Linked DNA regions of Homo sapiens: region 1 is linked to region 2. The links come from fine-mapping of genetic effects on gene expression. A gene starts in region 2. The other region holds a variant in brackets. All regions are shown on one strand. Distances are between the middles of the regions.

Region 1 (4,379 bases), 150 kb before region 2:
ACCAGGTCATGTCACTCTTGTGCTCCAGTGCCCCAGTGGTTCCCCCTTGTACTCAGAGCCAAAAGACAAAGTTGTTTCCACAGTCGGTGGCCAGACCCAACCCTCCCCTCCCTGTCCTCGAACCTCACCTCTTACCATGGCTCTCTCCTCAGTGCTCTGCCCCCCACCAGCCTGTCAGGCACCTCCTGCCTCAGGGCCTTTGTACCACTCACCCCCCGCCTGGAGCGCTTCCCAGCACTGCTTATTCCCACACTTCCTTCAAGTCTTCACTCAATCCGGGTGTGGTGGCTCATGCCTGTAATCCCAGCACTTTGGGAGGTGGGGTGGATAGCTTGAGGTCAGGAGTTCGAGACCAGCCTGGCCAACATGGTGAAATCCCCTTTACTAAAAATACAAAAATTAGCTGGGTGTGCCTGTAATCTCAGCACTTTGGGAGGCCAAGGTGTGCGGATCATGAGGTCAGGAGATCAGGACCATCCTGGCTACCACGGTGAAACCCCATCTCTACTAAAAATACAGAAAATTGGCCGGGCGTGGTGGCTCATGCCTGTAATCCCAGCATTTTGGGAGGCCAAGGCAGGCGGATTACCTGAGGTCAGGAGTTCAAGACCAGCCTGGCCAACATAGTGAAACCCCGTCTCTACTAAAAATACAAAAATTAGCCAGGTGTGGTGGCAGGTGCCTATAATCCCAGCTACTCAGGAGGCTGAAGCAGGAGAATCGCTTGAACCAGAACCAGGGAGGCGGACATTGCAGCCATTGCACTCCAGCCTGGGGGACAAGAGTGAGACTTTGTCTCAAAAAAAAAAAAAAAAAAAAATTAGCCGGGCGTGGTGGCGAGCGCCTGTAGTCCCAGCTACTCAGGAGGCTGAGGCAGGAGAATGACATGAACCCGGGAAGCGGAGGTTGCAGTGAGCCAAGATCTCGCTACTGCACGCCAGCCTGGGTAACAGAGTGAGACTCCGTCTTAAAAAAAAAAAAGTCTTCACTCAAAATCTCCCTCTCAATGAGCTGTACCCTAGCCACCCTGTTTATACCTCGGCACCCCTCCCTGCACTCTGCCACCACTCCCAGGACCCCTTATGCTGTGCCAACTACCAACAAACCACACACTTATTTATGTTTATTGTTTTGTCTGCCCTTCCCCTTCCCAGTAGAATACAATCTCCATGAAGGCAAGGATTTCCATTTTGCTCACTGATGGTACCTACAACACAGCCTGGCCCAGAGCACTTGATCAATAAACATCTATCAGTGAAAGATGCCTGATTGCAAGGCTCAGGTGCTTAACCACCATGCCGTAGGGCCTCCAAGGTTCTATTTAAACACCTTCATCTCTCTTCCTTTGGGGTGACTTCTCTACCCCCTGAGGGGATACAGAATGCCCCTGTCTTGTCTCAAGAGTCTCAATCCTGGGATTGGAGGCCTGCCCACCAGTCCTTCAGTCCTGGTCACTATTTCCCCCAGAAGGCTGAGTGGATCTGCTAAAAACAGGACATGGAAGAGTGAGGATCCATATACTCAGCACACAGTAGGCACTCAATTAATCAGGCATGTCGTAGTCCAAGGGTTGGTGGACCCCAGACAGGAAGCCTGCCTTCTGCCCAGTGTCCTCTGTGGAGAGGTGCCTGTTTCAGCAGTAGGGAATTGTGGTTCCTCATTATTCATTCTGGGAAGGCCTCCTGGGTCCTCCCATTATTCTCTGACCCTATGGCCCCTGTCCTGACCTCACTGTCACTTACCTAGACCACTGCACCAACCTGTGAGTGGCCTCTCAGCCTCTAATCCATCCTGCCCATGTTGCTAGAGGACTTCCCCTGCAACTCCTGTAACATACCTTCATTACCCATGCTTGTACTGCTTTACCAGGACTGGGTGGCTCCCACGCACAGGGGGCAATGGAGAACCCAGGG[C/T]TTCGAAGTCAGGCACACCCAGGTAGGAAACTGCTCCCTGACCTACTAGCTGGCTGACTTTGACCTTGATAGATAATCATCTTCCCTAGGCTGATGTTTCTTTGTGAAATATCTGTAAATGTGTGTGCATGTCTGTGTGTGCGCACGTGCATGTTGGGATAAGTGGGTTAGATCAGGAATTGCAGATGTATGTAACTCTTCTGGCTACGGTAGACATCGCGAATCGATGGTGGCACCTTTCTTTGCTTAACCAAATCTCAGAACTGAGCTCCAGGGATCAGAGATGACACATGGTTGAAGTCCATTTGCAATCTCCGGACATGATGGTCTTTGAGTTTCCTCTTAGCCCTGACACTGTGGAGACTAGAGGCGTTGGGCTGACAAGAGCCTGCGGTGGAGTGAGGGGACAGGTGGGCCCAGGGTAGGGTTGGGGGACAGGGTTGACTGGAGGGTTGACTGTGTACTGCAATTTTATCAACCTCCCTTCCTGTATACAGAGTGTGTGGTGCCGGGGGGAGGTTAGGGGTAGGAGGGCAGTCAGAGAAGAAGCTGGGGGATGGAAGATGGGACAAAGAGGGGCAGGCATAGCAGCTGATGACTGGATTGTCACAGATGGGAGGTACCTGTGGGTCCCCAAACCAAGGCCTCACAACACAGATAGAGACTTTGAGGCCCAGGGAAGGGCAGGTGCCCACTCAGAGTGACACAGAACTCAGGGTCCCTGAGCAAGGAGCAAGGGTGGTTCCCAGGCCTGGAGCCCATCCCAGGTCAGCCTAGAGCCACAAGCACTGTCAGGGAGTGAGCCCAAGTGTGTGTGCCTGTGTGCTTGCACACACTCAGGTGCAGAGAATGCAGCTGGCAGGAGTGGGGGTACACCCTGCAGCCCACCACCTTGCCTGCCCAGGCCACTGGCTGTCATCACAGCCTCCCTGTGATTCAGAGGGAGTGGGAGAGACACAGAAAGGGAGGACGGGGAGGAGGGCCAGAAACTGAGAGGGAAGGAAGGCAGAGAGGGTGGGAGGGAGAAGCAGAGAACTGAGGGAGACAGACAGAAGGCAAAGATGGTGGGGGGAGAAAGAGGGAGAGGAAGGGAGGGGAAGCTGGAAGAAAGAGAGGGAGATGGCAGAGTAAGAGGAGGGAGGGAGGAGGAGGGAGGCTGTTCTCCTTTCTTCTTTTTCTCAGAGGCATAGAGAGAAGAGAGGCAGGAGGGGGCAGACTGGGGAGTGATGGCACCCCCAAGCCCCCTCCTAGATAGGTCCTTTGGCTGGGGAGGGGCACGCATCCATAGCGGCTGCTTCTCCCACCATCCCAGCTAGAGCTGACCCCGCCTGCCAGTCACCTGCCAGAGCTATTTCTGGAATGTGGAATCTGGGTCAGACAGGGGGAGGGAGAACAGGGACAGCAGTAGTGGCACTGGCAGTGGAGAATTGGCCAGGTCCACGTGGGTGGGCGGGCAGGCAGGCAGCTCCTCACCCTGCCCACGCCCTGCTTGAGAGGGGCTCTCACTGCCTCAATAACTGCCGCTCCCCTACATCAACCCACCGGCCTGCACAGGACCTGAGTGCACAGATGCCTCTGTGAGAAGGACAGAGCTTTCATGCCCTTCAGCAACGTGGGGGCTCAGAACAGCCCTGGGGGTGGAGAAAGGACCCGATTGCTCACTCCTTGGAGACAGATGCTGAGGAGTAAGGGGGCAGCCTTCTGAGCAGGGGTGACCCAGTAGGGAGACAGTGGCTGGATGTACAGTGGTGAGGATGTGCCTGTGTGTGCTGGTGTTTGTCTGTGGAGGGAGTGATTTTGGGCAGGCTCGCCATATATGGTTGTACAAGTTTTATACTGATCAAGGATGCTACATATCGGGGGGAGCCATTCACCACATAGACATAATTTAATTATATAATTATTATGACAAATTTCTGGCAAATGGAAGTAAAGGACCTTATTCTAACAAAAAGTGTGACATGACAATTTTTCAACAGATGGCTGTTAAGTGTCTTAAGGAGTGCCCTTTCTTTCTATCTTTTTTTTTTTTTTGAGACAGAGTCTCGCTCTGTCGCCCAGGCTGGAGTGTAATAGTGCGATCTTGGCTCACTGCAACCTCTGCCTCCCAGGTTCAAGTGACTCTCCTGCCTCAGCCTCCCGAGTAGCTAGGATTACAGGCGCCCAGCTAATTTTTGTATTTTTAGTAGAGACGGGGTTTTGCCATGTTGGCCATTCTGGTCTCAAACTCCTGACCTCAGGTGATCCACCCACCTCGGCCTCCCAAAATGCTGGGATTACAGGCGTGAGCCACTGTGCCCGGACTCTTTTTTCTTTTTCTTTTCTTTCTTTCTTTCTTTTTTTTTTTTTTTTTTTTTTGGAGACAGAGTCTCACTCTTTTCGCCCAGTCTGGAGTGCAATGGCACGATCCCGGCTCACTGCAACCTCCGCCTCCTGGGTTCAAGCGATTCTTCTGCCTCAGCCTCC
Region 2 (4,379 bases):
CAAATGCGATTTTCTAATGCTTTTCTGAATGAATGAATACCCATCACGGAAGTATAGGAGGGTAGGGACCACCTGCTTCTGTCACATACGGTGCCCGGGATACAGTTCCTCAGAGCCTCCCCATCATGTGAAACTGCTGGCATTTACGAAGCCTGTGGCTCACAAACCACACAAGAACCTAATGAGATGTCAGTGGGTGCCCCGATACATCCGATACGTCAGCGTCTCCCGAAAGCTCCAAAGCACACATTCTCTCCTAGTTCCCAAGTGCTGCACAGCCTTCCTTCAAAAACACCAACTCAGCTGCCAGGCAGCTTCACGCCCGGGGCACAGCCCTCAGACCTGCAGTTCCATCTCAAGGCTGGCACCCGGGGTTCCACATAACCCAGCCATCAGGTCCCGTCCAGCTCACAGTTTCTCTTCAGCATGGACACTGTCTCCAATGCCTGACACAGGCTGCCTCCCCCAACAAAAAAGAGGCTCCTGGAGGTGGGGACCCTGTCAGCCATTGCACTCCCCAGCGCCCAGCACAGGCCTCACCAGGCCTCTGGCAGGTGAGTACGGGGTCGCCATGGACACCACACACGGGCACACTCCCAGAAGTTGAGTTGCGCTGTCCCAGCTCCTGGAGGACACAGGATCCCTGGCCTACCCCTGCCACAGCGGGAGACAGGCACTCTAGCCAGCCCCACGTGCACAGCCAGCGTCTCCGGAGCTGCTGGGAACACACTCGGAGTCTGCTGCTGACTGGCCCCGACAGCCGGCTCTAGGGCCTGGTGGTGGCTCCAACACTCCAGCCACCCATCGGCCAGGCCAGGGCACCAGCTCTGCAGCCCCACCCTGGGACCAGGCAGCCCAGTGCCCTCTGGCAGAGAAGGCAAGAGAGAGGTGGCCACCAAGGAGGGACAGAAACAGGGCTCTTCCAACAGGCATTCTAGGAGATGGTCCTGTACAACTGATTCCCACCACTTCCAGCTGGCGGAAAACAGCCCCCTCCCACAAGTGAGGGCTCAGAGGCAGAGAGAGCCAGGACTCCCCCCTCCCTACTGGGGACTAGGCTTGGAGAGGAGGTGCAGTGGAGGTAGAGGCAGGGCAGGCCAGTCCCCCGGGGGCTGGAACTGCAGCCCCCTCCCGCTATGTCATTTCCACTTCCAGGCAGGTGGGGGTGCCAGGAACCCTCTCCCCATCAGCGCTGCCCTCCAAGCTTAGGGCTTCCCATTCTCAGGGCACCTCCTCTACCCACCGCTCCCGGCACAACTGGCCTTTGCCAATCACAACCCCTCCCCCATTTCATTTTTTCCCACATCAACAGTCTCTGACAGCCCCTCTCTGCAACACAGGCAGCGGAGGAAGAAGGGGAGAAGGGCCGGAGGGATGGAGGGATGGAGGGATGGAGGGATGAAGGGATGGAGGGGGATCGGAGCGGCAGGTTCGGCCAAAAGAGACCAAGGGCCATTACACGTCCAGGTAGCACCTGTCCCCTTCCAGCAGGCCCAGCACATCTGGACCCAGCTGGTCCCCGCGGCCACCTGGTCCATCCGCCACCAGCTCTGAACGCGAACCCCTGTCTCCGCGGGGCGCCGCACGTGGGGGCCTCCGGTAGCCATGTGAGTGCCCCCCCAGCCCAGGTGCCCGGGTCAGCCCAGCCCCTCCCAGGGACGCAAACAGGGAGGGGGCGCTATGCAGCGCGGGAGGGGGGTGCTGCCCCCGCCCCCTCCCCAGATGCCAGGTCAGGGAAAGAGCTCGGGAAGGGGGGAGCCGGCGGCTCCCGGGTCTACCGAGACGGGATCCGAGGCAGCTGGGTTGAATGGAGGAATGCCCGGGCCGGCATAGCCCTGCTCTCCCAAGCGCCAAGGTTGGCCGGGCACGGGAGGGGTCCGCCTGACCCCCAGGCCGCCCTGCGGATTAGGGGGCGGGCCTGAGGAGGGGGCTTCCAGGCTTTGGCAGCCGCTTGATATGGGGTACGGGGGAGTCCGCGGGAAAAAGAGCCGGAATGGGGATCCGGTCCCGGACAGGGGTTCCGGGCCCCGGTGCCGCCGCCCCCGATTTGAGGGTCCGGGGAGACATGGATGGGGCGATCCCAACCGGAGAAGGCGCTTCCCAGCCGCACAGCCGGCCCCTCGGACCCGGGATCGGAAGACAGAACTGGCAGGGGAGGGGGCTTTTCTGCGCCAGCGCCGTCCCCCGGTTCAGGGAGGTCTGTCGGGGAGGAGACCAGATCGGGGGGTCTAGCCGAGGGACGGAGCGCGCCGGCCCGGGAAGGGGGTAGGAGCCGCCGCGCGCCACCCCCGCGCCCTCACCTGCGCCGGGCGCCTCGGCCGCCTCCGGCCCGCTCTGCCGTTCCGCTGCGCCGCCGCCGCCTCTCGGGTCCGCTCGCAGGTCCGCGCGCCTAGGCCCCGGCCCCCGCCCCGGCTCCGGCCCGCGGGCGCCCCATGCCTCTCCTCCGGCCGGCGCGGCGCCCCAGATGCGGCTGCGGGAGGAGGAGCCGTGCGGCCCCGGCTCCCCGAGAGCGGCGGGGAGGGGGCGGGGAGAGGGGAGAGGAGCGCGGGGGAGGGGGCCGTGCGGCTGCGCCCAAAACCAGGCGCGGATCGGGCCGCGGGCGCGGGGCTGGGGGGGCCTTGGGGGGGCCCGCGCCGTTCCTGGCGCCCCACCCCCACCCACGCCCCCGCAACCCGGGGGAAGGGGGAGGGTCTCCGCAGCGGGCGACCGCTCTGTCGCGATCCGGAAGAGCGCTTGGAAATCCGGGGCCGCCAGTCCAGAGAGGGCAGGCTACTGGAACAAGGTCACACAGCGCGGGCCGCGGTGGCACGGGAGCCTGGAACCCCAGGCTACGGGGCGGGCCGGCAGGAACCTGTGTTGACCATCGCCGCCCCGTGGAGGAGGGAAACTGAGGCCCAGAGAGAACGAGACTGGCCCGGGTCACACCGCGCCAGTCAGGAACCACCCCACCCCCGAGAACTTGGGGCTCCTGCCTCTAGGAATGGGTGCCCCCTCCCGGTGACCTGCTTCCGCAGAACCCTCTCCCAGGTGTCTTCTAGCCTCTGGCTGAACGGGGGTTAAATGCAGTCTCTGGAGTGGGATGAACCTGAACTGCGTACCAGCCCTGCCTCTCCTGGCTCTGTGGTTACAGACAAAAGACTGTCCCTCTCTGAGCCCCATTCCTCCACCTGTAAAATGGGGACACCACGAGTCTCTATCCCCAACTTGGGTGAGAAACCAAAGAGATCATGGGTATGAGCTCTTTACCGGTGCCTGGCATTCAGTAGGTGTCAAATGAATGTGCCTGCCTTCTCTGGCTCCCACACACAGCCATCTCCAGAGAATGCCTCTGAATGCAGAAGGGTCAGAATGGCGTGAAAGGGTGGCCTGCAAGGCTCCTCACAGCCCTGTTCCAGTCTCCTCCACCACCCACCCACCCTGCTCACATCCCCAACCCAGTGATGACTGTTTCAGTGCCCAGCCTCTGCCTTTCCCTGTGCCTGCCATGCCCTCCCACCTCTCTACCTGACAAACTCCTACTCATCCATCAAGGCCCAGAGCAATCTGTTTCGTACCCCAGCTTCTCACACTCCCTACTAGTCTACCCATATTTCCTTTCTCCAGAACACATTCCCCTTTCCCCAGTGTCTGGTCTGGGTTTGTCTCTATCTTCTCTGGCTCTAACAACTGGGGTGAGAGGAGGTCACTCAGAGGAGATGACACCCTGAGGCCCAGCGCTGCCCAAGAGGGCTTCCTGGAAGAGGCAGGGCTTCAGTAAAGCCTGGATGGAAAGGTGAGTTTAACACCTGCATGCAGCAGGCAAAGAGGTGGCATGTTTGGGCAGGGTGTCAGCAAGGAGGAGAGTGGGCTCCCTGGAGCAGTGGGAAGATCTTGGCGAATGAGCTGGGAGCCAGCGAGAGCCAGGGGCTGGACAGCGACCTGGCGGTATATATATGATCAGGTTGAAGATGAGCAGGCTTTGCCCTCGAGAACACCTCACATGGGGGCCCGGGAGGCTTGCACAAGGATGCTCATAGCAGCATCGTTTGTAATAGTGAAAAGCTGGACACAGCCTAAATGTCCATCATTTGGAAACTGGATAAATAGCAACACATTCAGACAATGGAAAACTGTCTGTGATCCACAATCCTCAAAATAGGTGATTGCAAGCTTATGCATTGTGAGGCTGAATCTCAAAAACACACTGTTGATTCAGTTTGTGAAAATCCAGGGTTGTACACTTACAATTTGTGTGCTCTTTGTATGAATGCTATACTTCAATACAATTTTTAAAATAAAAATATATATTGTTGGATGGAAAAAGCAAGTTGCAGATGGAAAACATAATTTCATGCCAGATACATAAAGTTTGAAAACACACAACACAATACCATATATTG

Direction of the effects. Alleles are on the strand shown, and positions count from the first base shown. SD is a standard deviation of normalised expression in the study named.
As copies of T replace C in region 1, the expression in tibial artery of the gene that starts at base 2,474 in region 2 goes up (small effect, 0.38 SD a copy in GTEx).

What was found. PIP is the estimated chance that this variant, and not a neighbour inherited with it, causes the effect. A credible set is the group of variants that fine-mapping cannot tell apart.
Region 1: its variant is the best candidate, but not a certain one, in a credible set for the expression of DLGAP4 in tibial artery (GTEx, PIP 0.52).

The regions. Positions count from the first base shown.
Region 1 is chr20:36,453,827-36,458,205 of GRCh38, reverse strand. All of the region lies in intron 7 of DLGAP4 (DLG associated protein 4), which reads right to left. Among named protein-coding and RNA genes, the nearest start is that of MYL9, 86 kb to the left of the region's middle. RefSeq lists an enhancer at 3,070-3,870. The variant C/T (reference allele first, on the strand shown) is at 1,914.
Region 2 is chr20:36,304,434-36,308,812 of GRCh38, reverse strand. DLGAP4 (DLG associated protein 4) reads right to left here and starts at 2,474. Exons shown (of 13, transcript NM_001365621.2): 1 at 2,301-2,474.